Linked DNA regions of Homo sapiens: region 2 is linked to region 1. The links come from fine-mapping of genetic effects on gene expression. A gene starts in region 1. The other region holds a variant in brackets. All regions are shown on one strand. Distances are from middle to middle.

The links. PIP is the estimated chance that this variant, and not a neighbour inherited with it, causes the effect.
Region 2: its variant is fine-mapped to the expression of EPS15L1 in whole blood (TOPMed, PIP above 0.99).

Annotation. Positions count from the first base shown.
Region 1 is chr19:16,465,193-16,481,021 of GRCh38, forward strand. It overlaps EPS15L1 (epidermal growth factor receptor pathway substrate 15 like 1), which reads right to left and starts at 6,778. Exons shown (of 24, transcript NM_001258374.3): 1 at 6,721-6,778. The coding sequence starts at 6,753. It overlaps CALR3 (calreticulin 3), which reads right to left. Exons shown (of 9, transcript NM_145046.5): 8 at 15,422-15,514; 9 at 13,869-14,082. The coding sequence ends at 13,939. RefSeq lists enhancers at 1-408, 5,956-6,867, 6,100-6,249 and silencers at 6,330-6,549, 6,610-7,009.
Region 2 is chr19:16,348,740-16,364,568 of GRCh38, forward strand. It overlaps EPS15L1 (epidermal growth factor receptor pathway substrate 15 like 1), which reads right to left. Exons shown (of 24, transcript NM_001258374.3): 23 at 13,040-13,245; 24 at 6,508-7,112. The coding sequence ends at 6,966. Among named protein-coding and RNA genes, the nearest start is that of KLF2, 32 kb to the left of the region's middle. The variant G/A (reference allele first, on the strand shown) is at 8,204.

The DNA of each region.
Region 1 (15,829 bases):
AGCTTGGCCTACACCAAACACGCCCTCTCCTCCATACAACCATGTCCAACACCCAAATGGAAGCCAGTCATCTGCCCCTCCTGCAGCTTGGACCACCCGTGACCTGAGCCTCTGCTGTGGGCCGGGCCTGGACAACTCAATTCTGCATGGGCCAGGAGCACTGATTACCACTCTGGCAGGGAAACCTTTGGATTCTCCTAAAGACAACTGGCTGGGAGTGGTGGCTCACACCTGTAATCTCAGCGCTTTGGAGGCAGAGGCAGGAGGATCACTTGAGGTCAGGAGTTCGAAACCAGCCTGGGCAACATAGCAAGATCCTGTCTCTACAAAAAAATTAAAAATTAGCCAGGTGTGGTGTTGCATGCCTGTAGTCTCAGTTCCTTGAGAGGCTGAGGTGGGAGGCTCACTTGAGGCCAAGAGTCGAGGCTGCAATGAGCTTTGATTGCACCACTGTACTCCAGCGTAGGCAATAGAGCAAGAGCCTGTCTCTAAAGGAAAAAGGAAGACAATAAGCAGGCCTTTCCATGTCCCTCTCTACCTTTTAATGAGATGAGATTAAAGTAATAAAATAAAAACTCAGACTACATGATATCTAATAACTAGGTATAAAAACAAATGAGGTTAGGAGATGTCATAAACTTAAAAACAAACAAACAAAAAAATAACTTTCCAAGACAAGAAACTATGGTGCAATGAAGAGGCCTGAACCTGTGTCAGAAAAGCCATGTCTGCCTGAGCTCACTGGGTACAAACTTGGGCAAGGGACGTAACAATCTCTGGCCTCACTTTATCTATTTTTTTTTTTTTTTTTTTTGAGACAGAGTCTTGCTCTGTCACCCAGGCTGGAGTACAGTGGTGCAATCTCGGCTCACTGCAACCTCCACCTCTCAGGTCCAAGCAATTCTCCTGCCTCAGCCTCCTGAGGAGCTGGGACTACAGGCATGTGCCACCACGCCTGGCTAATTTTTGTATTTTAGTAGAGACAGGGTTTCAGCATGTTGGCCAGGCTGGTCTTGAACTCTCGACCTCCAGTGATCTGCCCTTCCTGGCCTCCAGTGATCTGCCCCTCTTGCCCCTATACACTGAAGATAATACTGGCCAGAGTGACCGGGAGGATGAACCAGGCAATCTATGATGTTTTCTTTACTCAGTCCTTCCAGCCTGGTGGTGAGACCTTTCCTGACCTCCATCATCAGATCGGAACCTGCCCTGCTCTACTCATCTCACAGCATCAATCCCCACCGAATGCACTACACATTGGGCTCATTTCTTTATATCTGGGCCCCTCCCAACGATGTCAGCCCCGTGAGGCGGCACTGCCTTCAGATTCACTGTTCCATCCACTGCCCAGAAAGTGTCCAGCAAAAAGAAGATGCCAAATAAATACTCACTGAACGAACAGTGTGATCTACAAAAGGCAGGCATGAGGGCCAGGCGCGGTGCCTCCTGCCTGTAATCCCAGCACTTTGGGAGGCTGAGGCAGACAGATCACTTGAGGTCAGGAGTTCGAGACCAGCCTAGGCAACATAGTGAAACTCCATCTCTACTAAAAATACAAAAATTAGCTGGGTGTGGTAGTGGGCGCCTGTAATCCCAGCTACTCAGGAGGCTGAGACAGGAGAATCGCTTGAATCCAGGAGGCAGAGGTTGCAGTGAGCCAAGACAGCGCCATTGCACTCCATCCTGGGTGACAAGAGTGAAACTCTGTCTCAAAAAAAAAAAAAAAAGGAAAGCACTGAGAGCACATGCGTCACACGGCAGGGTCCTGACACTCTACTGTGACAAAGCAGGTCAAGCGAGTCCACAGTACCATTCTGCAGATGAGAAAACTAAGGTACAGAAAGTATTTGCAGGACTGAGGGCAGTGAAGGAATATCTGGGAATCCAAACAAACATCTAAGGACCTAAACATTGAAAAGCAGGCACCACTGCACCTGATGGTGCCTGCTTTTCTTTTCTTTTTTTTTTTTTTGAGACGTAGTGTCACTTTGTTGCCCAGGCTGGAGTGTGCAGTGGAGTGATCTTGGCTCACTGCAACCTCCGCCTCCTGGGTTCAAGTGATTCTCCTGCCTCAGGGTCCCGAGTGGCCGGGATTACAGGCGTCCGCCAGGACGCCAGGCTAATGTTTTGTATTTTTAGTAGAGATGAGGTTTCACCATGTTGGCCAGGCTGGTCTCAAACTCCTGACCTCAGGTGATCCACCTGCCTCAGCCTCCCAAAGTGCTAGGATTACAGGCGTCAGCCACTGCACCCGGCCTGGAAAGTTGTTTTAAAGTTCAGAATGGAGGTGGAGGGGTCTTGCCCAGGGAGAATCTATTTAGTCGAAAAAACAACAACAACAACAAAAACAAAAAAAAAACAGGCCAGTGCAGGTCAATAAGTGACAGTCAGGGAATTCTGGATCTTTCAGGAGTGGATTTTACTCTAAAACTTCGTTCTCATCAATTTAGACTGCATTGCCATTAGCATTCTACTAAGATAGACTAGCACTTATTTCAGAGGAAGAAAAGAAACAAGGGACAAGAGGACAAGTAAGTGTCCGAGCCACTCAGCATTCATTCCAGACACACTGGCCGGGTGCTGCTCTGGGAGAGGTGCCCAGCAGGCCATCTGGAACAGCAGGGCTCTGCGGCAGGAGGACGCAGGTGTGACCTCAGCTCTGCGCCCACCAACTATGAGACTTCAGCAAGTTACTCTATTTCTGTGGGTCTTGGTTTCCTCACTTGTAAAAGGGGAATAAAAGCCTCCTAGAATGGAGGCACCTACTGAAATACAGCAAAAGCTCCTGGATGAAGAACACATAACAAGGGGGAAAGGAGGAAGGTGTAGCTCTTTGGGCCCAGGGCAGTCTCTCCTCATCACTGAGCCCAGTTACCACGCGCTTCCTAGGTACAGCGGTCACAAAAGGGACCCACGGAAGGTACAAGGGAGAGAACTCTCATTCGGGTGGGGCTAAGGGAGGACAACACAGGGGAGGCCTCAAAGACCGTCCTTCAGGGCAGGCAGCATACGGCAGGAGCTCACAGTGATGTTCTAGCAACCGGAGCAACACAGCTAAGGATGCTGAGGCTAGAAAGTGTTGCCAAGAGCCAGAAGTGCAGGAAAGGGACCCAGCAAGGTTAGGTGGAGTCGATTCAGGGCTTACTAAGGTCATCAAAGCTGACTTTTTTTGAGACTGAGTCTCACCCTGTTGCCCAGGCTGGGGTGCAGTGGCGCGATCTCAGCTCACTGCAACCTCCGCCGCCTGGTTTCAAGCGATTCTTGTGCCTCAGCCTCCCAAGTTGCTGGGATTATAGGCGTTTGCCACTATGCCTGGCTAACTTTTGTATTTTTAGTACAGACAGGGTTTTGCTATGTTGGCCAGGCTGGTCTCGAGCTCCTGGCCTCAAGCAATCCATCCACCTCAGCCTCCTAAAGTGCTGGGATTATAGGCATGAGCCACAGCGCCCAGCCATAAACTGAGTTCTTTTGGAGGAAGGGGAATGGGAGCTGTGAAAGGTTTTTGGAACAGGGGAATATGTTTTAGAAGATGAATCCTAGCCAGATGCAGTGGCTGACACCGTAATTCCAATACTTTAGGAGGCTGAGATAGAAGGATTGCTTGAGGCTAGGGGTTTAAGACCTGCCTAGGCAGCATAGCAAGACTTCATCTCTTCAAAAAAAAAATTGTTTAATTAGCTGGGTATGATTGGTGCTGCGCTCCTGTAGTCCCAGCTACTTGAGAGGCCAAGGTGGGAGAATTGCTTGAGCCCAGGAGTTTGAGGTTGCAGTGAGCTATGATCCTACCACTGCACTCCAGCCTGGGGGACAGAGCGAGACCCTGTCTCAAAAATCAAAAAGATGACTTCCACAGTGGCGTGGGATTAAGTGGGAGGGAGTGGGCAAGTAGGAAGTAGAATGGCCCAGACCACTTTGGGGCATGGCAAGGAAATGGCCCATTCCAGAGTCCAGCAGGCTGGCAGAGGTGCAGGAGAGAGACACCTTCTGGACTCTAGAAGGCAGGTTTGAAGTCCTCTGCACAGAAGCTCCAGGGGAGGGAGCGCACAGAGAGATAAGATGCAGGTAGGGAGGCTGAAATTAGGGGACAAGAAGGAGAGACTGAAAGGAGAGAGGATGAAGAGTGAAGACCGACGGGCTCCAGTGTTGCGGAGTTCGAGGAGGATCGGCTGCAGCCACAGGGCACCGGGGTTAAGGACGGAGGGGCCACCGGTAACCTCGGGGAGTACAAGGAGGAAAGAGATCTGGATGCATTTCCACGGAAGGCTTTTTGGAAAGCAGAAGAGAGCTGAGCAGGGGGACAGGGAGACACACAAATCACTGAGATGCTGTTGGGAAAAAAAAATCACTCCTAAAGAGGCAGAGGTGCAGACCTTTCGAATTTACGTTGATATTCAGGGTCAGAAAAGAGTATATAAGGAAGGAGATTCTGAGATGATGTCATGGAGTACAGAACAGACTGAAAAAGATGCTGATGGGAAAAGTGCAGACAGGAGTGGGGGTGGAGAAAACACACCCCTCCTCCCCTAGGCTAGCCCGCTGGGTTATCCACTTTGCTCACCTTCACCTGGCCATCTGCTTGCCAAGTGTGCTCTGTCACCTAAATCCAACCAGATCACAGCCACCTGCTGCAGGGTGCTTCCCTTTTGCCCCCAACCAAAAATTTTGGAATTATACCCTTGGTTCCCCCAGAGTTATCTGTGAACCCAAGTGATCTCCTGAGCTAGACAGTAAGGGCCTGGGAGGGCCATGCCTCACACCTGGGCCAACAGTAACCCATGGTGTAGATTTTCACTCGAGAGCAAGTGTAAAGAAGTGCTGACATTTCCAAACGAAGAAAACCAGGCCACGCCTTCATTCAACAAATGTATAGGGAAAGGAACAGGAAGAGGCTAAGAAGTCAGTGACCTGGCCAGGCGCAGTGGCTAACGCCTGTAATCCCAGCACTTTGGGAGGCCAAGGCGGGTGGATCACTCGAGTTCAGGAGTTTGACACGAGCCTCGCCAAAATGGTGAAACCCCGTCTCCACTAAAAAAAAAATACAAAAATTAGCCGGGTGTGGTAGCACGTGCCTGTAGTCCCAGCTACTCAGGAGGCTGAGGCAGGAGAATCACTTGAACTCGGGAGGCGGAGGTTACAGTGAGCTGAGATCATGCCACTGCACTCCACCCTGGGTGACAGAGCAATACTCCATCTCAAAAAAAAAAAAATTGGACAGGAAGTTTTAGAAAGATCCACGCCTCCCAAACTGGGAGTGCTTAGTGCTTTCTCATGAAATGATCTTAGGTGATTTTCCCCCGACTCCCGCCTTCCCCGCCCCCCACCCCCTGACTACATACTCTAAACTGTAGCACTTAGCTATTAACACCTATTATCGGTAGGACACTTAACAGTTTACAGAGCACTTTCATGTCAGTAACAAGAACTTGCTAATTAATAATCACCGGGTTTTAGCACTGTTAACTTAGTGACAGTGTTGCAAATTGGCTAGCTGTGCACTTCTCTCTCCTTGGATCAGCTAACCAGTCATGCAAGCATGCAACCGGCCTATCAACTCTCTTTGGGTTTGGAATTCTTAATTGCTGCGGTCTCTACTCCCAAACGTCCAAATCTGGCAGAGATTAAATGATGACAGTAATTATAGGATCACTGAGTGCCTCTCATATGCTAGGCACTGTTCTAAGCGCTTTTTCACGTGCTTAATTTTCACATAATCCCAACACATTTTTATATCTCCATTTTCCAAAGGAAGCAACTGATGGGTGGAATGGCTAAGAGCTTCAACCAAAGGCACAGAGAAATCGGGGCTGGAGCCAAGATTTGAACACATGATCTGACCCTGTGTCCTCACTCTTAATCACCATGCTGTGCTAGATCATTCTAGCAAAATGCTTATATGGTGCTTTGCACAACACAGGTATTCAGCAAATAAAGGCAGCTGTGATTAGCATAACACAGGTAGTTTCTAGTTCCCACGAGTGTCACCTCCAGGAAAGCAGCGACCTTGTCTGTCTGGAAGAATGCAGCGCTCCCAGCACCTGACCCAACGCACATTTGAGGGATGGATAGAAAATGAATGAATGAAAGTCTCTCCCAAATAACAGAGCTGCCTACGCATGGCTCTTTTTCGCATGTCTGTGTCGCGCTATCGATACTGCCCCTTCATAAGCGCATCAGGCGAATTTGAGGACACAGAGAGGCGCCCGGAGACGTACGATCTGCGCCCGGTGCAGGGGTGGCGGAAGCAGCTTCCAAGGAGGCAGGGGATCAGTCTGAGATCGCACTGCTGCTGACGGGTCCGGGCTCCGGCGGGACCCTGCCCGCCCGGGCGCCGGGACCGGAGGGAGACAAAGACTCGCTGGGCCGCCGCGCCGACAGAAACGCTCGCACCCCTCGCCCACCCCTCCGGGATGCAGCCCAGCGCCTCCGCGGGTCCCCGGCCTGGGAGCTTCAGCGGCGGCAGGGTCCGGGCCCTGGGCGGAGAGGACACGCGCTGCGCACCTCCTCGCCTCGCCGGTGCCCGCGAGGGTCGCTCGGGCACGGGAGGCCGCGGGTCCCGGCCTGTCACCTTCAGGGCCGCCTGCCCACCCGCCCGCCGCAAGCCCTTCAGCACGCGCCGCCCCCGCCGCCGCCTGGCTGAGTCTCCCAGCGCCTCAGCCTCGCCGCACCGCTCGCCTCGCGCCCCGCACCCCGGCGCCGCCCCCAGGCCCGCCCGGCCCGTACCTGCTGGGAGAGGGGGATGAGCGGCGCCGCCATCTTCCCGCGGACTCGGGCTCCGAGCGCCGGGGGAACGGGGGCGGGGCTGCAGCCACGCGTGCGCACTGGGACGACGGGAGGGCGGTGCGCAGGCCGCCTGTCCCGGGAGAGGGCGGGGCCGTAGACAGGGCCACGCATGTGCAGTCAGGCCGGGAGGGGCGGGGGCAGGGGCGGGGCCGCCCACACGCAGCCTGGAGGGGCTGGGCCTGAGGCATCTGCGTCTTCCGTGCTCTCTTGCCCGTTCCCCTACTCCTCCTTCCAACGTTGTTCGGACTCTCATGCCGCTGGCCGCTGTCCGAGTCGACCATGCTGTGTCATCCCTCCAGCCCATGCCGAGGCCTGGTTCTCTGTTAGGGATGCCGTCCCCCTGCCAGTGCGCCTGGGGAGGCGGTCGCCCACCCCGCGGAGGGTCGGGACCCTCACCCTGCCCCGCAAAGCGCCCTGTTCCTAGGATCGCAGTGTGTGTGTGTGTGTGTGTGTGTGTGTGTGCGCGCTAATTTGGGGGACCCGCACCCTGCCCCCCTCACCCTGCCCCGCAAGGCGTCCTCCTGGCTGTGGTGGCGGGCACCTGAAATCCAAGCTACTCAGGAGACTGAGGCAGGAGAATTGCTTGAGCCCAGGAAGCAGAGGTTTCAGTGAGCCAAGATCACACCATTGCAATCCAGCCTGGGCAACAGAAGCGAAACTCTGTCTCAAAAATAAATAAATAAATAAGACAAGAACCCACTTGTTGCCAGGTACAGTGGCTTACACCTGTAATCCCAGCACTTTGGGAGGCCGAGGTGGGAGGGTCATGAGGTCAGGAGTTGGAGACCAGCCTGGCCAGTATGGTGAAACATCAATATGGTGAAACCCCATCTCTACTAAAAAAAATACAAAAATTAGCAGGTGTGGTGGTGCATGCCTGTAGTCCCAGCTACTCAGGAGGCTGAGGCCAGAGAATCACTTGAACCCGGGAGGTGGAGGTTGCGGTGAGCCAAGATTGCACCACTGCACTCCAGCCTGGGTGACAGAGTGAGACTCTGTCTCAAAACAAAGTCAAAAACAAAAAGAACCCACTTGTAACTGTTGCTAATCAAAGCATACATTCAGGGCAACTTGAATCTGTGTCTCCTGGACTGCGGTCCTCAACCTTGGCCCAAACTCTCTACTTATATTAACTTTGCCTCAGCTTCTTTTGTTACATCAATAGAGTAATGAAGGTTTTTAACAGTCTTGAGTGCTTTATCAGTACGTATTCCATAAGGAAAAGAGAAGTCCTTCTAGGTACTTCAAACAGAGGATATTGAATACAGGGGATTGAGCCAGGCTCTGTGGCTCACACTTGTAATCCCAGCAATCCAGTTGAGACAGGTAGATTGATACCAGCCTGGCCAACATGGAGAAACCCCATCTTTACTAAAAATACAAAAATTAACCCAGTGCAGTGGCAGGTGCCTGTAATCCCAGCTACTCAGGAGGCTGAGGCAGGAGAATTGCTTGAACCTGGGAGGGGAAGGTTGCAATAAGCTGAGAACTCACCATTGCACTCCAACCTAGGTGACAGAGCGAGACTCTGTCTAAAAAATAAATAAATAAAAATAAATGAATACATAAACGACTACAGGGGACTGAGTATAAAAGTGTTGGAAGTACTGGAAGAACAAAAGAGGAAGGTAAGTTTACCTAAAGATTCATAACTATATGAGGCTGCTAGCCTCTCTAGAGCTGAAAGATTAAAGCAGGGGAGGTGGCTGGGCATAGTGGCTCACGCCTGTAATCCCAGCACTTTGGGAGGCCGAGGTGGATGGATCACCTGAGGTCAGAAGTTTGAGACCAGCCTGGCCAACATGATGAAATCCCGTGTCTACTAAAAATACAAAAATTAGCCGGTTGTGGTGGTGGGCACCTGTAATCCCAGCTACTCGGGAGGCTGAGGCAGGAGAATCACTTGAACCTGGGAGGCGGAGGTTGCAGTGAGCTGAGATCACGCCACTGCACTCCAGTTTGGGCAACAAGAGCGAAACTCCGTCTCAAAATAAATAAATAAATAAAGCACAGGAGGACCCATAACCCACAATCACTGTGCCTACAGAAGGATCCCAGATGTGTTCACCCTTGCTAGCCACAGTTGCCTCCACCATGATTGCGAAAGTCACAGTTGTTGTTGTCACCACCACCTAAGCCACTGGCAGAAGTCTGAAAAAATGGTTTCTCCCCTCTTTCTGCCTCCCAACTTTGTTCTAATAAAGCATGACAGGAACGTTGCCAATTGGCAACGGCGTCCAGGAAATGTAGCATGCAGGCTTTAAGTGCCAGTATCAGAGTCTAGAATGGTGGTGGCCATAGAAACTCTCCAGCATCATCTTGTAAAAATAATCCAAACTTGGCTGGGCGCGGTGGCCCACACCTGTAATTCCAGCCCTTTGGAGGGCCGAGGCAGGCAGTTCACGAGGTCAGGAATTCGAGACCAGCCTGGCCAACACAGTGAAACCCCATCTCTACTAAAAATACAAGAATTAGCCAGGCGTGGTGGCGGGTGCCTGTAATCCCAGCTACTCGGGAGGCTGAGGCAGGAGAATTGCTTGAACCTGGGATGGGGAGGTTGCAGTGAGCCAAGATCGCACCATTGCACTCCAGCCTGGGCAACAAGAGCAAAACTCCGTCTCAGAAGAAAAAAAAGAAAAAAAAAAAGGCCGGGCATGGTGGCTCACGCCTGAAATCCCAACACTTTGGAAGGCCGAGGCAGGCAGATCATGAGGTCAGGAGATCGAGACCATCCTGGCCAACATGGTGAAACCCCATCTCTACTAAAAATACGAAAATTTAGCCGGGCATGGTGGGGGGTGCCTGTAGTCCCAGCTACTTGTGAGGCTGAGGCAGGAGAATGGCATGAACTCAGGAGGCGGGTCTTGCAGTGAGCCGAGATCGCGCCACTGCACTCCAGCCTGGGCAACACAGAAACTTCGTCTCAAAAAAAAAAAAAAAAATCCAAACTTAATCATACACTTTTGAACCCTAAGAATTATGTTGAGCCTTGAAGAAAACGGGACTGTGTGATCTGAGCCAGACAGCATGTAACTACAACTTCTGCTTATAGATTATAGATTAACTCTCCTGTTCTTGCTCTGTAGATTCATTTCAAGACTAAATGGCATCAGCGTTAAGATCGCCCTTCTTCATTGCTGACCTTTCCTCTATTATCTTGCACCTAAATCAGACCAGATAGTGCAAAAGGTCCTGTGACTGTTATGTCCTCTATGTGAATGTTAAATATACCCTTCCCAAAAAGACCACTGCCTTGACTAATCAGATTACTGTTAACTATGTACTTGCCTTGTGTGAAATATGTAGAAACGCTGTCAAGCTTCCCAAACCTTACCTATATAAATGACCCCCAAACTTCCTCAGTTTGGAATGCTGATTTCCATTCTTTGGAATCTGTGTTCCAGGGTGGCCGTCCTCAAACTTTTGTGCTAAACTAAACTCTATATTTAACCATATTTCCTGAATTTATTTATTTAGGGTTGATGTTTTGATGATCCAGATGGGATCTGAAGTGGAGTTCCAGTGATCCCTGCCACTTCTCACAATCAGACCCTTTGTACTGTTACCGCAAAGGGGTCTTGATCCAGACCCCGAGAGGGTTCTTGGATCTCACCCAAGAAAGAATTAGTGCGAGTCCATACAGTAAAGTGAAAGCAAGTTTATTAGGAAAGTAAAGGAATAAAGGAATGGCTACTTCATAGAGCAGCCCCAAGGGCTGCTGGTTGCTTTTTTTTTTTGGGAGAAGTTTCACTGTTGTTGCCAGGGCTGGAGTGCAATGACGGGATCTCAGCTCACCACAACCTCCACCTCCTGGGTTCAAGTGGTTCTCCTGCCTCAGCCTCCTGAATAGCTGGGATTAGAGACATGCACCACCACGCCCAGCTAATTTTGTATTTTTAGTAGATGTGGGGTTTCTCCATGTTGGTTAGGCTGGTCTTGAACTCCCAACCTCAAGTGATCCGCCTGCCTCGGCCTCTCAAAGTGCTGGAATTACAGGCTTGAGCCACTGTGCCTGGCCAGGTTGCTCATTTTTATGGTTATTTCTTGATGATATGCTAGACAAGGGGTGGATTATTCATGCCTTCCCTTTTTACTTATTTATGTATTTATTTATTTATTTTTTGAGACGGAGTCTCGCTCTGTCACCCAGGCTGGAGTGCAGTGGCGCGATCTCGGCTCACTGCAAGCTCCGCCTCCCGGGTTCACGCCATTCTCCTGCCTCAGCCTCCCGAGTAGTTGAGACTACAGGCACCCACCACCACGCCCGGCTAATTTTTTTGTATTTTTAGTAGAGACAGGGTTTCACTGTGTTAGCCAGGATGGTCTCGATCTCCTGACCTCGTGATCCACCCATCTCAGCCTTCCAAAGTGCTGGGATTACAGGCGTGAGCCACCGCGCCCGGCCCCCTTTTCAGGCTGCCATATACAGTAACTTCCTGATGTTGCCATGACCTTTGTAAACTGCCATGGCGCTGGTGGGAGTGTAGCAGTGAGGACCACCAGAGGTCACTCCCATCACTATCTTGGTTTTGGTGGGTTTTAGCCGGCTTCTTTACTGCAACCTGTTTTATCAGCAAGGTCTTTAGTGCTGACCTCCTATCTCATCATGTGGCTAAGAATGCCTTAACCGCCTGGGAATGCAGCCCAGTAGGTCTCAGCCTTATTTTACTAAGCCCCTATTCAAGATGGAGTTGCTCTGGCAGCTACCTGATTTATGAATTGTTCTTTGCTCAGTTACACTCCATGAAATTTAATATGTCCAGAGTTTTTCCTCTAACAAAGTTTAAAGTGAAGTTAACTAGAATGAAATAAGATTAAAAAGTCATTTCTTGGTCCCACTAGCCACATTTCAAGAGCTCAATAGCAACACGTGACCCGGCATGGTAGCTCACGCCTGTGATCCCAGCACTTTGGGAGGCTGAGGCACGCAGATCACTTGAGGTCAGGAGTTCCAGACCAGCCTGGCCAACATGGCGAAACCCCATCTCTACTAAAAATACAAAATTCAGATGGGCATGGCGCATGCCTGTAATCCCAGCTACTTGGGAGGCTAAGGCATGAGAATCGCTTGAACCCAGGAGGCAGAGGTTGCAGTGAGCCATACTTGCGCCACTGAACTCCAGCCTGGGCAACAGAGCAAGATTCTGTCTCAAAAACAAACAAACAAAAAAAGCAACATGTGACAAATTCTCTCGGACAACGCTGCTCCCAACGAATCTTCAGAGCCTGAGCCAGTCTCACTCACCGTTTTTTGTCTTGTTAGCTCCACTTTATTTTATTTTTAGAGAGGGGGTCTCGCTCTGTCACTCAGGCTGGAGTGCAGTGGCACGATCATAGCCCACTGCAGCCTTGACCTCTTGGACTCAAGCGATCCTCCCATCTCAGCCTCCCAAGTAGCTGGGACCACAGTCATGTACCTCCATGCCCAGCTAATTACAAAAAAAATTTTTTTTAGAGACAAGGTCTCTATGTTGCCCAAGCTGGTCTCAAACTCCTGGTCTTAAGTGACCCTCCCTCCTTGACCCCCCAGATAGCTGGGATTACAGGCACAAGCCACTACACCTGGCCTGACTCACCTTTGTACACTAATTGGTACCAGCACTTTCTCTCCAGGTCTGCCTCTGATTCTTTTCACACTACTCACCCTGTTCAGAGGTGAAAGAGGTAGGCAATGTTTGCCACCCTTGCATTAGGAGGAAGGGAGTCTTTAGTTTCTCAGAGTAATAATCAATCCCTAATAATTGGTGAAGGTTGATGTAGCCACCATCAGAAAAAATCCAGGTGCAAAGGTCTGCCAACATTGACCAGAGTGAGAGCAAAATTCTGCAGAACTTCACTTCCCAGCCAGGCTTTTGAAACTGATCAACTTTCTTTTTTTTCTTTTCTTCTTTCTTTCTCTTTTTTTTTTTTTTTTTTCTGAGGTAGGGTCTCATTCTGTCACACAGGCTGGAGTGCAGTGGCACAATCTCAGCTCACTGCAATCTCCACCTCCCAAGCTCAGGTGATCCTCCCATCTCAGCCTCCCGAATAGCTGGGACCACGGGTGTGCACCGCCAAACCCAGCTAATTTTTAGTATTTTTTGTAGAGGCAGAGTTTCGCCACATTGCCCAGGCTGGTCTTGAACTCCTGGACTCAAGCAATTTACACACCTCAGTCTCCCAAAGTGCTGGGATTACAGGTGTGAGCTACTGCACCCGGCCCACACTGGTCAACTCTCAATATTCTGTATATAAATTCCAATTTATTTGGCTTATTCATAACATCACTAGATTCCAAATTTCTGGTGTCACAAATTTGATTATTTTCATCATGAGTTTCAGTATGATTATGGGCCTCTTCCAGAAGAAGACTGGGCCAGGAGCAGTGGCTCACACCTGTAAGCCCAGAGCTTTGAGAGGCCAAGGTGGGAGGATGGCTTGAGTCCAGGAGTTCAGGACCAGCCTGGGCAACATGTGAGACTCCCATCCCTATAAAAATTAAATTAAAAAACAAAAAATATGGCTGGCTGCAGTGGTTCATGCCTATAATCCCAGCACTTTGGGAGACCAAGGCAGGCGGATCACGAGGTCAAGAGATCAAGACCATCCTGGCTAACACAGTGAAACCCCATCTCTACTTAAAATACAAAAAGTTAACCGGGTGTGGTGGCGGGCGCCTGTAGTCCCAGCTACTCAGGAGGTTGAGGCTGCCTCCAGCCTCAGCCTGAAGTACCTGGGACTACAGGTGCGCACCACCACATCCAGCTCCTTTTTGTATTTTTAGTAGAGACGGGTTTTCACTGTGTTGGCCAGGCTGGTCTTGAACTCTGGGCTCAAGTGATCCGCCCACCTCAGCCTCCCAAAGTGATGGGATTATAGGCGTGAGGCACACTGCCTGGTCAACTTTTATTTTATAAAAAGACTTTTGGGAGTTAAGAAAAGGGGATCATGGTTTTGGCCAGACCCTTGCTGGCCTCTGGCTTCCAGTGTGTAAAATTGTCAAGAGGGAACTTCTCAGTGCAAGGGGGTCACCAGGGGAGATACAACCTACCCCACCCAGAAGCATGAAACACTGTTCAAAGAAAATTGGACAAAGTGCCATGTAGACATTTGAGTTTGAAACATAGATTAAAGTAGCAATGAGATTTTACCAGTCATCCTTATATCCAATGGGGATCACTAAAGTTCATTCCTTCTGTGAAATTGATTGAAGTAATGTTCGTGCCTGTTAATTTTTCCCGACAGCAGCTCTTCCTCCTCTTCCTCGCGGGCCTTCTTCATTTCCTCCTTGGCCTGTATGGCATCCATCTCCCTTTCTGGACCCTGGAGAAAGAAAGAAAAAACATAAGCCCCACCGGGTGCGATGGCTCGTGCCTGTAATCCCAGCACTTTGGGAGGCCGAGGCAGATGGATCACGAAGTCAGGAGATCGAGACCATCCCGGCTAACACGGTGAAACACAGTCTCTACCAAAAATACAAAAAAAAAAAAGCCAGGCGTGGTGGTGGGCGCCTGTAGTCCCAGCTACTCGGGAGGCTGAGGCAGGAGAATGGCCTAAACCTGGGAGGCAGAGCTTGCAGTGAGCTGAGATCACTCTACTGCACTCCATCCTGGGCGACAGAGCAAGACTCTGTCTCAAAAAAAAAAAAAAAGCAAAAATTAGCTGGGCGTGGTGGTGTGTGGCTGTAGTCCCAGCTGCTCGGGAGGCTGAGGTGAGAGGATCATTTGAACCTAGGAGGCGGAGGTTGCAGTGAGTCGAGATGGCACCACTGCACTCCAGCCTGGGTGACAGAGCAAAACCCGTCTCAAAACAAAACAAAACAAAACAAAACAAAAAAAGCCCCAGAGGCCAGGGGTTATGCTTCCATGTGGCCAAATGCATGTCAGTACTCAGGCAGACCCTGCCTTCTAGAAGCCTCCTCACCACCTAGGATAGGCTGAATAAGAAGAACCTGTAAAGATTGCATGTCCTGGCTGGGCGCGGTGGCTCACACCTGTAATCCCAGCACTTTGGGAGGCCGAGGCAGGCAGATCATGAGGTCAAGAGAGCGAGACCATCCTGGCCAATATGGTGAAACCCCGTCTCTACTAAAAATACAAAAATTAGTTGGGTGTGGTGGCAGGTGCCTGTAGTCCCAGCTACTCGGGAGGCTGAGGCAGGAGAATCGCTTGAACCGGGAGGTGGAGGTTGCAGTGCGCCGAGATCACGCCACTGTACTTCAGCCTGGCGACAGAGCGAGACTCCGTCTCAAAAAAAAAAAAAAAAAAAAAAAATTCATGTCCTAATCCCTGGAACCTGCCAATATTAACCTTACATGGGGCCAGGCACAGTGGCTCACTCCTGTAATCCCAGCACTTTGGGAGGCCAAGGCAGGTGGATCACCTGAGGTCAGGACTTCGAGACCAGCCTGAACAATATGGTGAAACCCCCTCTCTACTAAAAATACACAAATTAGCCGGACGTGGTGGCATGCGCCTGTAGTCCCAGCTACTTGGGAGTCTGAGGCAGGAGAATCGCTTGAACCCGGGAGGTGGAGGTTGCAGTGAGCCGAGACTATGCCACTACATTACAGCCTGGGTGACAGAGCTAGACTCCATCTAAAAAAAAAAAATTTACACAAATGAAATAGTGATGTAGGAAGAGTTAATCACGTGCTTCATACCTTGGTTTCGCCCCAGGTGGCCTTGCCAAAATTATCTGCGTACTCTTCATCATCTGTGATCAGAAAGTTATCAAAAATGGTTCCAGATCTCACCTGCAGATGAAAATAAGGCCTTCATTATTATGCTTTTATTCTTTATTATTTGTTTATTTTTCATTTCTTTTTTCCTTTGGAAATACATGAAGCTCAGGTGACATTTTTTATTTTTTAGAGATGGGGTCTTGCTATGTTGCCTAGGCTGGATTTGAACTTCTGGGCTTGGCCAGGCGTGGTGGTTCACACCTATAATCCCAGCACTTTGGGAGGCTGGGGCAGGTGAATCACTTGAGGTCAGGAGTTCAAGACTAGCCTGGCCAACACGGTGAACCCCATCTCTATTAAAAATACAAAAATTACCAGGTGTGGTCG
Region 2 (15,829 bases), 120 kb before region 1:
AGCTACTTGGGAGGCTGAGGTGGGAGGATCACTTGAGCCCAGGAGGTTGAGGATGCAGTGAACTATGATCGCAACCACCGCACTTCAGCCTGGGTGACAGAGTAAGGCCCTTTCTCTAAAAATAAAGAAACAAAAATAAAATGAAAGTTGCCTCTTGTCTGCTGTATTGGAGGTTTCTGTATCTGCTGATTCAACCAACCCTAGATCGAAACTACTTGAAAAGGGGCCGGGGGCGGTGGCTCACGCTTGTAATCCCAGCACTTTGGGAGGCCAAGGCGGGTGGATCACCTGAGGTTGGGAGTTCGAGACCAGCCTGGCCAACACAGTGAAACCCCGTCTCTACTAAAAGTATAAAAATTAGCCAGGCATGGTGGCGGGTGCCTGTAATCCCAGCTACTTGGGAGGCCAAGGCAGGAGAATCACTTGAACCCAGGAGGCAGAGGTTACAGTGAGCGGAGATTGCGCCACTGCACTCCAGCCTGGGTGACAAGAGAGAGACTCTGTCTCAAAAAAAAAAAAAAGAGGCAGGGCGCGGTGGCTCACGCCTCTAATCCCAGCACTTTGGGAGGCCAAGGCAGGCAGATCACGAGGTCAGGAGATCGAGACCATCTTGGCCAACATGGTGAAACCCCATCTCTACTAAAATACAAAAAATTAGCCGGGCATGGTGGCAGGTGCCTGTAATCCCAGCTATTTGGGAGGCTGAGGCAGGGGAATCGCTTGAACCCAGGAGGTGGAGGTTGCAGTGAGCTGAGATCGCGCCACTGCACTCCAGCCTGGAGACAGAGCAAGGCTCCATCTCAAAAAAAAAAAAAAAAAAAAAGAGAGAGAGAGAGAGAAAGAAACCATTTGAAAAAAAACAATCAAAAGTTGCCTCTTATGTGAAAGATCTGATGGCTAGGAGGGGTCATTGTTCATTTTCTCAGACGTGACCTTGGCATCGAGTATACGTTAGCATGTCAGTCGCCACACGTCTCAGTGACGTGCGCTTCAGGGCACGTGGGCGAAATGGCATCCTGACTCCAACTTGCTCTAAAGTGCTTCTCCAGAGCAAAGGAAGACAGCCATGCGGCAAAGGTGGAAAATCTGGATGACAGTTGACGCTGGGTGGGGGTGTTTACTGTCCTTTTCTCTTCAACTATTATGTTTGGAAATTTTCATCATACATTTGTTCCAATTGGATACTCTATTCTTCAGGAAAGGGCGTGAGTGTCCTTTGCCGTGGAAGAGACTGCCAATGGGAGAGGGGATGGATTTGTGGATTTGATGTTGATTATTTACACAGCAGGGGAGTGTGTGTGTGTGTGTGTGTGTGTGTAGCAGGGAAGGAAGGAAACAGGATTTGAGACTGGCTTCTAACTTTTTAAAGGGTCTGAGGACCTCTTTAAAAATCAGATGGAGGCTGGGCACAGTGGCTCACACCTGTCATCAGCAGCACTTTGGGAGGCCGAAGCGGGAGGGTCACTTGGGGCCAGGAGTTGGAGATCAGCCTGGCCAACATAGTGAGACCCTGTTTCTATAAAAATAAAAATAAAATAAAAATTAAAAAAAATTAGCCAGGGCCGGGCACGGTGGCTCATGCCTGTAATCCCAGCACTTTGGGAGGCTGAGGTGGGCAGATCAAGAGGTCAGTAGATCGAGACCATCCTGGCTAACACGGTGAAACCCCGTCTCTACTAAAAATACAAAAAAATTTGCTGGGCGTGGTGGCGGGCGCCTGTAGTCCCAGCTACTCAGGAGGCTGAGGCAGGAGAATGGCGTGAACCCGGGAGGCGGAGCTTGCAGTGAGCCGAGATCGTGCCACTGCCCTCCAGACTGGGTGACAGAGCGAGACTCCGTCTCAAAAAAAAAAAAAAAAAAAAAAAAAAAAAAAATTAGCCGGATGTGGTCAGCTACTCAGGAGGCTGAGGCAGGAGGATCACTTGAGCCCAGGAGTTCAAGGCTGCAGTGGGCTATGATTGCGCCATGCACTCCAGCCTGGGTGAGAGAGCGAGACCCCCATCTCTTAAAAAAGGGGAAAAAAAAAGATAAAAAGTTATGAACACTGCAAACCCACATACAATAAAAAACAAACCAGGGCTGGGTGCGGTGGCTCATGCCTGTAATCCCAGCACTTTGGGAGTCTGAAGCAGGCGAATCACGAGGTCAAGAGATCGAGACCATCCTAGCCAACATGGTGAAACCTCATCTCTAATAAAAATACAAAAATTAGCCAGGCATGGCGGCGTGTGCCTGTAGTCCCAGCTACTTGGGAGGCTGAGGCAGGAGAATCACTTGAACCCAGGAGGTAGAGGTTGCAGTGAGCTGAGATCACGCCACTGCACTCCAGCCTGGTGACAAAGCAAGACTCCGATTCAAAAAAAAAAAAAAAAAAAAAAGAACAAAAACAAAAAACCAGCAAATGTGCATTCAGGGGTTCACTGCTTTCCCTAAAAACGTCCCCTCCCCTGGGTAAGAGCTCCTAATTCAATACATGGTTTTCCATTTCTAAGATATCAAGAGCCATCACCTGCCTCTTCTGGGTACGGTGAATATGCAAATAAGCAGAAGACAACAAGAAACTAGAAACCCTGAAGTTTTCTAAGAAACCCTCAATTCTTTTCTCAAATCAGCAAAACGAGCCTCCGCCCCTGGCTGGCTTCGGAGCTCTGGGCAAATGACTGCAGGGAATGAGTCTCAGTTTTCCCTCAGGAAAATGGGCTAACATCCACCCTCTTCATTTACAAGGTTGCTTTGAGTTTCCAACAAGATAATGGAAGCTGAATCGCTGTGAAAATTGTGAAGTCCCAAACCAAATGGTGCCAAAGCTGTGACTACCCTGGAGAGAGGTGACTCAGCGCCTTCTCCAAAGGGATCTATCACGGCAGAAGCACATGGCTTGGGACCTTCAGATTCACTCTGGGGTTTTCCTGCAGGAGGAAGGAAGTATTGGGAATTGCCTCCGGCCATGACCACTTTCAGGAAGCTGCTCGTTTTTGCAGAGAAGATTAGGGGCATCTCAGAGGTTACAAAGCCCACGAGGCCCCACCAGGCCCCAATCCACAAAGCAGGCCCATTCCATGGGCACCAAGAAGACGTCCCCTCCCAACACCCTCATCTCCAGGACTGCAGGGACCCCTCGAGGGTCTGTAACCTGGAAAAGGGGGATTACCAAAGGTTTGGAATCTTTACATTCGCCCAAATCCACCATAAACTTCAGTTTATGGTTTATAGATGACCCTTGAACAACACAGGTTTGAACTGGGTGGGTTCAGTCATATGTGGATTTTCTTTGTTTTGAGCCCGAGTCTCACTCTTGTTGCCCAGGCTGGAGTGCAGTGGTGCGATCTCAGCCCACTGCAACCTCCGCCTCCCGGGTTCAAGTGACTCTCCTGCCTCAGCCTCCCTAATAGCTAGGATTACAGGCATCTGCCACGACACCCAGCTAATTTTTGTATTTTTAGTAGAGACGGGGTTTTACCATGTTGGCCAGGCTGGTCTCGAACTCCTGACCTCAGGTGATCCACTCGCCTCAGCCTCCTGAAGTGCTGGAATTACAGGCATGAGCCACTGTGCCCTGCCTGTATGTGGATTTTCTTCCACCTCTGCCACCCCAAGACCAACCCTTCCTCCTCCTCCTCCTCGGGTTACTCAATGGGAAGATGATGAGGAAGAAGACCTTTATGATGATCCACTTCCACTTAATGGATGGCCAATATTTTTTCTCTTCCTTTTCCTGAGGATTTTCTTTTTTTGTTTTTGGAGATGGAGTCTCGCTCTGTTGCCCAGGCTAGACTGCAGTGGCACGATCTTGGCTCACTGCAACCTCTGCCTCCCAGGTTCAAGCGATCCTCCTTGTCTCAGCCTCCTGAGTAGCTGGGATTACAGGTGCCTGTCACCACGCCTGGCTAATTTTTTGTATTTTTAGTAGAGATGGGGTTTCACCACATTGGCCAGGCTGGTCTCGAATTCCTGGCCTCAAGTTATCCTCCCACCTCGGCCTCCCAAAGTGCTGGGATTACAGGCATGAGCCACTGCTCCTGGCCTTTTTTTTTTTTTTTTTTTTTTTTTTGAGACAGAGTCTTGCTCTGTCACCAGGTTGGAGTGCAGTGGCACGATCTCGGCTCATTGCAACTTCTGCCTCCCGGGTTCAAGCCACTCTCCTGCCTCAGCCTCCCGAGTAGCTGGGATTACAGGTGCCCACTACCATGCCCAGCTAATTTTTGTATTTTTAGTAGAGACGGGGTTTCACTGTGTTGGCCAGGATGGTCTCAATCTCCTGACCTCTTGATCCACCTGCCTTGGCCTCCCAAAGTGCTGGGATTACAGGCGTTAGCCACCACGCCCGGCCCTGTATTTTCAATCTCATGAATTACTGCCCTGAGACGAGTCTATGTAACAAAATATCTGAGGCTGAAAAACTGCTTTTTAAAAATAAATCTACCTGAGGCCAGGAGTTTGAGACTAGCCTGGCCAACATGGCAAAACCCCATCTCTACTAAAAATACAAAAAATTAGCCAGGCATGTTGCCTAATGCCTGTAATTCCAGCTACTTGGGAGGCTGAGACAGGAGAATTGCTTGAACTTGGGAGGTGGAGGCTGCAGCGAGCTGAGATCACACCATTGTACTCCAGCTTGGGTGACAAGAGTGAAACTCTGTCCCAAAATAAAATAAAATAATAAATAAAAATAAATCTATGTCCAGTGGATCCAGGTCAACACCAGCCTTCTAAGTCATGTTGATGACATGGATCTTTGATGTGATTTGATGTCAATACACTTCATCTCTGTGGTCTTCCTCCCCCAAGTCCAGCTCCACATCTAGTCACGGGAAAAACATCAGACAAATCCCAGTGGAGGGACATTCTACAAAGCACCTGACCAGTTCTCCTTGTAACTGTCATCAAAAACACACAACGTTTGAGAAACTCACACAGCCCAGAGAATTCTTTTTTTTTTCCTTGAGACAAGAGTCTCACTCTGTCGCCCAGGCTGGAGTGCAGCGGTGTGATCTCGGCTCACTGCAACCTCTGCCCCCCGGGTTCCAGCGATTCTCCTGCCTCAGCCTCCTGAGTAGCTGGGATTACAAGCGCCTGCCACTGCGCCCGGCTAATTTTTCTATTTTTAGTAGAGACGGGGTTCCACCCAGCCCAGAGAATTCTAACGAGATGTAAGGTCTGAATGTCATGGGGGATCCTGGGACAGAAAAAGGACATTAGGGGGAAAAACGAATTTTTTTTTTTTGACAGGGTCTTACTCTGTGGCCCAGACTGGAGTGCAGAGGTGCGATCTTGGCCCACCACAACCTCCACCTCCCAGGTTCAAGCGATTCTCCTGCGTCAGTCTCCCGAGTAGCTGGGATTACAGGCATGCTCCACTACCACCCGGCTATTTTTTGTGTATTTTTAGTAGAGACGGGGTTTCACCATGTTGGCCAGGCTGGTCTTGAACTCCTGACCTCAAATGATCCACCTGCCTCGGCCTCCCAAATGGCTGGGATTACAGGTGTGAGCCACCGTGCCCTACCTGCATTTTTTTTTTTAGACGGTGTCTTTCTTGTCGCCTGGGCCAGAGTGCAATGGCATGATATTGGCTCACTGCAACTCCACCTCCTGAGTTTCAAGTGATTCTCCTGCCTCAGCCTCTCGAGTAGCTGGGATTACAAGTGCGCACCACCACGCGCGGCTAATTTTTGTGTTGTTTTTTTTTAGTAGAGACAGGGTTTCACTATGTTGGCCAGGCTGGTCCCCAACTCCTGACCTCAAGTGATCCCCCCCACCTCGGCCTCCCAAAGTGCTGGAATTACAGGCATGAGCCACCGCACTCAGCCAAAAAAACAGAGCAATTCTGAATAAAGTAAGGACTCTAGTTAATAATAATGAATCCGTATTGGTTCATTAATTGGGATGTAAGTAATGTGTAATGTAAGATGTTAAAAATAAGGTAAACTCTCTAAGGGGCTTATGGGAACCCTTCGTATTTTCTTTGCGATCTTTCTGCAAATTTAAAACTGGCCAGGCACAGTGGCACATGTCTGTAATCCCAGCCCTTTGGGAGGCTGAAGTGGGAGGATCACTTGAGCCCGGGGAAGTGGAGGTTGCAGTGAGCTGAGATCACACCACTGCACTCCACCCTGGGTGACAGAGCTCAGACCCTGTTTCAAAAAAAAATTTTTTTTAAGGATAAATTGTCTAAGGGGCTTATGGGAACTCTTTGTATCTTTGTGATTTTTCTGCAGGTTTAAAACTGTCCTAAAAAATAAAGTTGGTTAAAACATAAAAATGGGCAGGGCTTGGTGGCTCACGCCTGTAATCCCAGCACTTTGGGATGCTGAGACAGGAGAATTGTGTGAGTCAAGGAGTTTGAGACCAGCCTGGGCAACATGGCAAGATCTCATCTCTTAAAAAAAAATTTTTTTTAAAAGTAAAAACTTAAGATTTAAAGAGCAATGTTCCACCTGGTTGATCTGCTTCCTGATACCCATGCAGGGAAAACAATGTTTACAGAGATTAAAGAAGCTTCTCTTGTTTTGTATTAAAATATTTTATATTAATCATTCAAACTTCATTTTATACAACGAGTGCATACACCACTGGGGGAGTGTCTGACTGATGCGTGGGAGGGCGGGTGGGGATGTCTGCAGCTATGAGTAGGGAGGAGGCGGGGAAGCCCTGGGTGCTTCCTCTCCTCGACTGACCGCTGTGTGTTCGTCCCCAGAGGAAGAGCGGGAGGCAGTCAGCCCCGGGGGGGATGGCACAGTGGAGAGACGGACCTGCAGAAGTGGTGGCCAAGGCCTCTGTAAGGGCTTCCCCAGGAGATGTGACCTTTCCAGGTCTTGCAGCCGAGTCTGCTCACCCTGAACAAGCCCCCGAGTCCCGGTCCTTGGAGTACGGTGGCGACGGTGTGTGTGTGTATATATAGACATCTGCACTGCCCCCTCTCTGGAACCCGCCCGTGCCCTGTCCCGCCTACACACGGCCCTCGCCTAGGCGGCAGGCATGTCAGCCTTGCTGAGCGCGATGGCCAGTTCCAGGTCCTCCTGCTCCTGCCGCCGCAGCCGCGCCAGCCTCTCCTGTTCCGCCTTCTCGCTCTCCCGCTTGGCCCACGCCAGCTGCTGCTCCTCATTGCCAAACTGCAAAGGAAAAACGGAGAGTGGGTGATGTGGCCCTGGGGCTGGGACCTGCAAGCTGGAGGGAGGCAGGGAATGCGTGGGAGGGGTCAGGGTCCTGCCCACCGCCCAGCGGAGGGTCCGATGTGCAGGGGATAAGCATGTCTTGGCTGGGCCCAGTGGGCGTGCGAGCCTGTCTCAGGCCCCCCATCTGGAAAGCAGAGTGGACGGGATGCATGTGATTGAGTGTGACCTTAACCATGACCTCTGGGCCTCAAAGAAACCAGCCACCCCGCCCCACGCAGAGAAGTGAGGATGGGCCCTTGACGCTGGTGGCCAAGAGGTGCAAAGATGGGGAACTTCCAGCGTGCATGGCTCTAAAGCCCCACGGCGCAGACAATTCTGCACTCTGGGAATGTGGTATTTCTACCTCCAGCCATGCTCCAGAGAGCTCTGAGACCCTCTGAGGGTCATTTTCTTTTTCTTTTTCTTTTTTTTTTTTTGAGATGGAGTCTCGCTCTGTCGCCAGGCTGGAGTGCAATGGCGCGATCTCGGCTCATTGCAACATTCACCTCCCAGGTTCAAGGGATTCTCTTGCCTCAGCCCCCTGAGTAGCTGGGATTACAGGCATGCGCTACCATGCCCAGCTAATTTTTGTATGTTTCGTAGAGACGGGGTTTCACCATGTTGGTCAGGCTGGTCTTGAACTCCTGACCTTGTGATCCACCCGCCTCAGCCTCCCAAAGTGCTGGGATTACAGGCGTGAGCCACCGCACCCGGCTCTGAGGGTCAATTTCTCCCAGAACACTGACAAAAGGTGTGGCACTTACACTGCCATTTAGTCAAGTTTTTATCCGTGGGGTGTTTTTCTAAAATGTTCAGTTAAAATAAAAACTTAAAAAAGGGAGAAAACCATCTTGATGCTGAGATAGGTGATTTCAAACAACTCAAAGTACTTTAGTCATGAAAAGAAAAGCCACATCCCACAAGCTCCTCCCCCAGGGTGGGTCCCAATGTCCCAGACTTCCCTGAGAGGTCACTGGCATCATCGGCCCCCTCAGGAAAGCTGCTGCTGCTTAGGGATTCAAAGGATTCCCTTATTAATGTCTCTCTGC[G/A]ATGCACTGCCTCTGACCAGCTCTCTGCTCAACACTGGAGTAACACCAAAGATAACATGCGCAGTGGCTCTTCCCCAGGCACCCTTGGGAGCAGAAATATACAAACAATCCCAGAACGATCCAGGACCCAAGGACCCAGGCTCTCGAGGAGGGCCCTGCAGACTAACCCAGGAAGGTGGGGGAAAGAAGCACACAGGAACACTCACGGCCTCTCCACCACACGCAGCACTAGGTCTGCGTGACAACCTGGGGGTGGGCCCGCTGTCATCTCATCCCTCTGACAGCTGGGGACACTGAGGCCAGGGAAGGGGTGGCTCACACTCTAGACTTTTTCCCCCCCAGGCCTGTGGGGAGCAGGATACTAGGTGAAACTGACAGGGAGGATGCGTCCCTGCGAGGTTCTGGGTGTGAGGCTCAGTGCCCGACCTTGGGGTAGCCAGGATGAAGCGTGGGGTGGGATAAGCCAGACTGAGGAGGGGCTCGTGGGCCCCAGGAAGGAGCTGGGATTTCCCCGTGGAGGCTCCTTGGGCGAGCGAGTTGGGTGATCAGATTGGCAGCGTCTGGATATTTCACGGCTTGATGGTGGCATGAGCGGGAAGCAGGAGAGAGGAGGGCCAGATGGCAGGGCTGGGGGGACTGGGCAAGGTGCAGGAGCAGATAAATGCAAGGAACCTGGTTGGGAGGCAGATGTGGCAGTGAGGGGGATGCGGGGCCCTGGAGGCCTCCCTCTAGCTGGCCTCAGGACCCAGATGGGGGACAGGCGGAGTGTCAGTATCAAGAAAAGATGTCCCTGGGAGGAAGGGCTGAGTCTTGACTTCTTAAAGAGGCACTGCCCAGCTAAACACTTGGGGGTCTGATGAGTCTCCAGGTCGGACTCCCTCCCCGCCATTGTGTCACTGCCAGGGGCACAGATAAGCATCCCCCCCGCCCCAGTTTGGGGAATTTTCCAACACCTCATGGGGAGAAAAACAAGGAAAAACCAACAAGTGCAGGTGGAAATTATTCCATGGTGCTGCTGACAACAGTGGGAGGGAGACAGTGCAGCTGACGGGGACCTCACCCTCCACCAGCCTTGAGGACAGGGTGGGTGGGAGCTGACAGTAATGTTCGCCTGGATCCAAATCAAAGCCTGGAACGACCAAGTAACCGGCCTGCTGGGTCTGAACCACAGCCCTCTGGCCGCCTTTGGCCCCACTGAGCCCCCGTGTCACAGTGTCACTGAAGCGCCTTCCCTTGACGGGTCTGTGTTTCCAAATGAAAGGTGTCAGCAGGAAAGTTCCTGGTGCCTTCAGAGTCGACCGGTTCAAGGCCAGCTCACGAATCCACTGTGGAGACTTGCATTGGTGAGGTCTGTATGCACTTAGGAGGCACGCTGGGCTGTGAGGCCTGGGAGAGCTCTCCTGAAAGGGGACTCCGCAGCTCCCTCTGTGTCTGCTGTCTTAGCCCTGGACGGGGCCACCTTCTAGTTCTCGTATCTGGGTGGGTCACACGGGCCAGAATCTGGATGTCTGTGGCCGATGCAAAACCAATAGTGGCTGGGAAACACACTGGCTCTGATTTCTGCTTCCCTCTGGCATTACCATGGAACCGAGACACCGTAGGGGCATGACACCACCCTAGCCGAGGCCTGCCCACTCAGGATGGGGTTCATTTTCAGAAGCAAATAAGTGGTTCATTTCAGCAGCCTCTTGGAAATCCGCAGTTTAGACAGCTCGGCACGCTGGGCGATGGGATGGCCCCGGGAGGCGCCCGGCACCTGTCCTCACTGGCGCTCCAAGGTGTCTGATGGCACTTCCACCCCACCATGTGCAGGACATGCCTAGCCACTTCCCATTCATTCATTTACCGACAATGAAATTGTATCCAACTCCTTCAATAATTCGAAGCACGGCCTAGCTGATCTGGTATTTGCACTACTCTTAATGCGAACTTCCAAAAGAACCGTTCCGCTAACCTAGAAATGCCACTTCCTAATACACACATTTGCCTGAGACAGAAAGGCCTGCTTTTAAAGAAATACCAGAGAGGGAAGAGGTTTCCCGGGAACAGCCACACACGCAAATAACCCATTGATGGAAATTTGGGGTTTGTAAATTAGAGGGTTCTGGAGAGGCACCGCCGGGGCACCACCTCCACAAGTGAGGTGCGGGTGACCTGGGCCCCCCTGACTGCCAGCATGGACTGGGCTGCTCCTGCACAGGTAAAAACATGCCCTGAACAGCAGTCTCAGAACGTCCACGCTGAAAGAGTCACGCTGCCAATCTGCCGGGCAGTCAGACAGCCCTCTTGGCATTTGCTCAGGGAAGTGGAATCATTCAAACCAGAGGAAGCAGCTGTGCCCTCTTCTAAGTTAGCACAAATAGTCAAGATCCAGTGAACCCAGAAACCACCAGCTGATCGGCTGAGCCCCCGAATGCCGTGAACATGGAGAGACGTCATCTTGAGTCCCCAGAGGAGAGCTGGTTATGGATGATTTTAGACAATGATACGACCCAAGGGGACAAACAAAAACAATTAAGGGTCCTGTCTTCACTCAACCCATCCCTTCAGAGTGGCTGAAGTACACTATCTGATCATTTCCTCTGGAAAAAAACTGGGGTATTTGCAGTGGGAAAAGTGATTTTAAACAGAAAACAGGCCGGGCACAGGGGCTCATGCCTGTAATCCCAACACTTTGGGAGCCTGAGGCAGAAGGATCATTTGAGCCCAGAGTTCAAAGACCAGACTGGGTAGTAAAGTGAGACCTTGTCTCTATCAGAACATTTTAAAATTAGCCAGATGTGGTGGTGCGCGCCTGAGGTCCCAGCTACGTGGGAGGCTGAGGTGGGACGATTGCTTGAGCCCAGGAGGTCAAGGCTGCAGTGAAGCTGTGACTGCACCACTGCATTCTAGCCTGGGCAACAGAGCGAGACTCATCTCCAAATATGTAAAAACCAAAAACTTAGGGAAAAAAAAAAAAAAAACAGAAAACAACAGGGCTGCATCCAGGCCTGGGTGGAATTTGCTTTCCCACCAGGAGATGAGGGTGATAAAATGGCTGGCGCTATTTTAAAACTGAAGTTAACAATTGTTCTGGAACTACCAGAAATGCTAAGCCAAATGATACCTTGAAACCTTGGGTGTTTTTTTTTTTTTTATGCTTTTCGAAAAAACGAGCCCTTTGCGGGTTGGGGTCACAGGAAATAGAATTATGAATTTCAGAAAGAGAACAGTCATTTCTTCAAGCTGCCGTTCACCCCACTTACCTAACTCTTCCCTACCCAAGACAGAGTACCTGAGTCATGTGTGAAGAGTTCTGTTTTTTTTAAATCAGCGTTTAATATTTTTCCACCAGAAAATAAATGAAGGGCTATTCAAGAAACTCTAGATAAAGCAGGTTTTGTTTCTGGCTTTTATTAACAATGTCACCATTTTGTATAGACCCCCAGTGCGCATCTAGGGTCAACAAAATCAAACTCACTGCCGTTGTAAAATATTTATAGGTCACCAAGAGCCAGAAACAGGTCAGGGTCTTGGGCGATTTAAATAAGCCACATGGGCCAGTCACGTGTAACCCCAGTACTTCAAGGTGGGAGGATCGCTTGAGGCCAGGAGTTCCAGACCAGCCCAGGCAACACAGCAAGACCCTACCTCTACAAAAAAAAAAAATTAAACATTAGCCTTGCGTGGTGTTGCACGCCTGTCGTCCCAGCTACTCAGGAGGCCAAGACAGGAGGATCGCTTGAGCCCAGGAATTCGAGGTTACAAGTGAGCTCTGATCGCGCCAATGCAGACCAGGCTGGGCAACACAGCGAGACCCTGTCACTAAAATAAATAAATTGACAAATAAGCCATAGGATAGCTGTGCACGGTAGAGATTATCAAGACGGCTCAGAAACAAATCGGGTGCTTTCTGTGCATTGACATGGCAGGGCTGTGTTCAAAGAGCCATCCCAGGAGTCGAAGCATCTATAAATAACACATCTCACACCTAATGATGAAGGAACTAACAAGCCCAAAGGAAGAAAGCGAGGGCATCACACATAGTGAAACCAATTCTGGGAAGACAACACCTGAAGCTTTCAGAGAACAAGATTTTCATGTATCAAGGAAGCTGCTAAAAACTCCTTGAAGCGACGGCATGTTACAATCTGGAATATTTTTTCACACAGAGAAAAACAAAGCCAGGCTTTCGAAATCCCGAGATTTGCTTCCGAAAAGGCACTTAACTTTGCTCAACAGTTTTTTGGAGCTCTTTTTGTTTTGGCTTTCAGAGTGGCTGTTCTAGACTGGATTTCTTTTTTCATTGGAGCTGGTAACTGAAATTTAAAAGCTTTAAAAAAAAAAAACTTCAAATTGCTCTTCCCTGGCGCGATCTGCCTGAAGTCCTTCAATTTGCACTTGTGGCACAAAATGCATGGGGCGGGACTGTGAGAACTTGTGCACAAAGGGCTTTTTGGGGACAGCAGAACCCTAATGTAACTTTCGCAATCTTCTTTTCATACTTCGGAAGTGTTTGACATCTTGGCTTCCAAAAACCAGTGAACACAACAGCCTCGGTGCGTCAGAAATAATACAATGAATCTACCGTGAAGGACAGATAGGTCCCGCCTCCCTGCTGGAAGAAAACGTGCCCTTATGATAGAGCATCCAAACTGCGGCTCTTTTTTTTTTTATTGAGAAACTGTTTTTCTTACAGAAGTGGCAGTGTAGAATAAATAACGCGAGGGACAGAGAGTGTGAGGTACCAAGAGGCTAAAGAAGCTGGGAGGTTTGCCTTTAAAAGGAGACAAAAATCCCAGGGAAGCTGCAAGCGGAAGGGAGTGGGGTGGCCCGGAGGCGGAGGACTCAACTTACAGAGGTGAAGTCTGCAAAGCCCGAGGCAGAGGCCTTAGAAGGTTTAGCTGCAGAGGAGGGGACAAATGGGTCTTTTCCACTAAACGGGTCCCCAAACCCCTTTTTACTTTGGAACGGGTCGCCGCTGTCAGCCCCGAGTGGCTGGAATGGATCGGGGGCCTCGGGAAAGTCTGCGGAACCAAGCTGGCTTACAGGTGTACTTTTACCTGGAAAGTTTAGGAGAAAAAAAAAAGGAGAAAGAAAGAAATATGAGTTACTCACCCGGACAGAGCAGAATGCTGGTGGGCACAAGCCCGGGGCGCTTCTCTGAGAAAAGCTTGTAACTTGGCTAACAGGCTGGACGGGGGTACCCTGGGGAATCCCAGTTTTAATCAGCTTTATCCCAGGGGCTTAACGGGTTGTGAACAACACAGGAAAAACACTTCAGATGACTCCCATACACAACGCACACAGAGCAGCTAAAACTTGAGTTGTCCTAGAATAGTTTGCATGCAGGTACGTTTCAAACAGATTCATTTTAGCATGGCAACACATTTATTAACATACTAATTTAAAAAATCATGGCTGAGCAGAAAAATACACTGCAAGCTTCTAACAGTAAAAAAAAAAAAAGGCAGAGGGGAGAGTTACTTGCAAATGAAAAGGAGGAATTAGTTTCACAACGTGGTATGGTTATTCGGTGTGTTAGTTATAAGGGTCTGCACACAGCTCTGCCATGCTGAGGTTTAAGTTCTTTTTTTTTTTTTTTTTTTTTTTTTTTTCAGAGACAGAGTCTTGCTCTGTCACCTGGGCTGAAATGCAGTGGTGCAATCATGGCTTATTGCGGCCTTGGCCTCCAGGGCTCAAGCGATCCTCCCACCTCAGCCTCCTACAGGCATGAGCCACCATGCGTGGCTAATTTTTGTATTTTTAGTAGAGATGGGATTTTGCCATGTTGCCCAGGCTAGCCTCAAACTCCTGCCCTCAAGTCATCTGCCCGCCTCAGCCTCCCAAAGTGCTGGGATTACAGGCATGAGCCACTGCACCTGGCCTTAAGTTCTTTTTTAGCCCCCACTTCTGTCCCTCTGGTGTTGGTGGCTCCAAGGGGCAGCGTTTATCTGGGCCTTTCTGGGCTTCTGCCAAGCAGGGAACTCCAGGATGCCCGGTCCCAGCAAGGTATATCTTGACAGGGAGGTGAGAGAGAAGTGTTCAGAAATGGAGGAAAATGACACTGTGTGGGGGACATGGCCTGAGGATGGTAGCTTTTCCCAGTGCATCCTGCCAATGTACCAGAACATTCCACCAAGAAGCAGAGGCCTGTTAAGATCTGCTTGGTGACGGGAGGTCCCACCTGACGGGCCTTCCAGCATCTGCAGTTTGCAGGCCAGCCGGGCTGACTCCATGCTCCTGACACCCCTCTATCTGCCCAACGGAGTCCCTGGGCATTCAACGTGGTCCACGCAGCACCCCAGACTGGAAGCTCAATAATATGCAACACGATTCCGGCGTGTTAACTCTGGAAGTTTCGAAGCTAATGTTTAGAAAAAACCAGGAACTGCCTGTCCCTCCAGGGTTGACCTTGGATCTCTGGCTGCACCTCCAGAGAGCACCCTGGCTCCCAGCCACACCTGCCCCGCCCACCACCTGAGCCTGGGACACCTGCCTTCCTCATCCGGTAGAACGAGCCCACACAGGCCAGCCTCGGTCCCTCTCCATGCCCAGATCTAAAGCCTTTCCCTCTGTTCCCCCAGCAGATCAGCCATCCCAGGCCTCATTTTTGAGGCCCCAGGTGTCCTTGTGGGCTCCGGGGCTACAGCCCCCATCTGCCACCTTTAGCTCTGGGCCTCGGCAAGGGAAAGTGCCTCCTCCCAGCTGGCCTCCGTTTCCTTATCTGTGAAGTGGAAATGAGAAGGAGGGCGCCAAACAAGGTGACATTCCTGGGGTCCAGGAGTCTCCTCCCACTCAGTGTCCTGCACCGCCGTGCCCAGCATAGGCCAGTGAGAACCTGGCCCGTAGCCCCCCCTTGCCTGTAGCCCTACTTCTGGAAATGGAAATTCACTTTTCTCTCAACCGGCAGTTCTGGGCCAGCATAAGGACTGCTGCTTTCTTTTTGCATATTCAAGGAAAAACAGTCTTCCTTCCCACGGTTTGCACAGAAGGACTCGGAGACAAACTCCCCTGCAGCCCACCCTTGCGGCCTGCCTGTCCGCCTCTGCCCGTCCCACAGGGTTCCACCGGGGTCGCCGTTGCATCCTTAGCTGACCTCTGGCCACCAGCTGCGGGAGATCCTTCCAGACTCCTTGTCTGTGTGAGTCCATCTAAGAGGCTCCTCCTCAGGGTTGGAGGGCGAGCTGTCCTGGGCTCTATTAGGACTCACATGGATGAGAAAGAGGGGAGGTCGAGGCCTGGTATCAGTCTCCTCCTGTGGCCTCAAATCAATTCACTGTCAGACCCAAGGCCCAGTTAGCAGAGGGGGCCCTGCAATCTGGAAGGGGCCTATCTTTGCCAAAACTTGTGGGCAAGCCATGCTGGAGACCCTTCCCTAGAGGGGCAGTGCCCAGCCCACGCGGGCAGGACAGGAATGTGGCCCCTCTCCTTCCGACAGCGCCTGCCCTCTCAGGGCAGTCCCCACACCCGAGCTTTCTAGGTGTCTCCCTTTTTCTATCCCCAGATGTCCCTCCCACCTTCAGCTCTACTGCGGCCTCCTCCTACCCCGACCTCCCCGGGGCTGCAGAGAGCAGGGTGATCTGGCCCAGCCCGCAGACCCCGGGCTGGTTCCGCTGGCCTTGAGGAACTGCCTCACACCCCCAC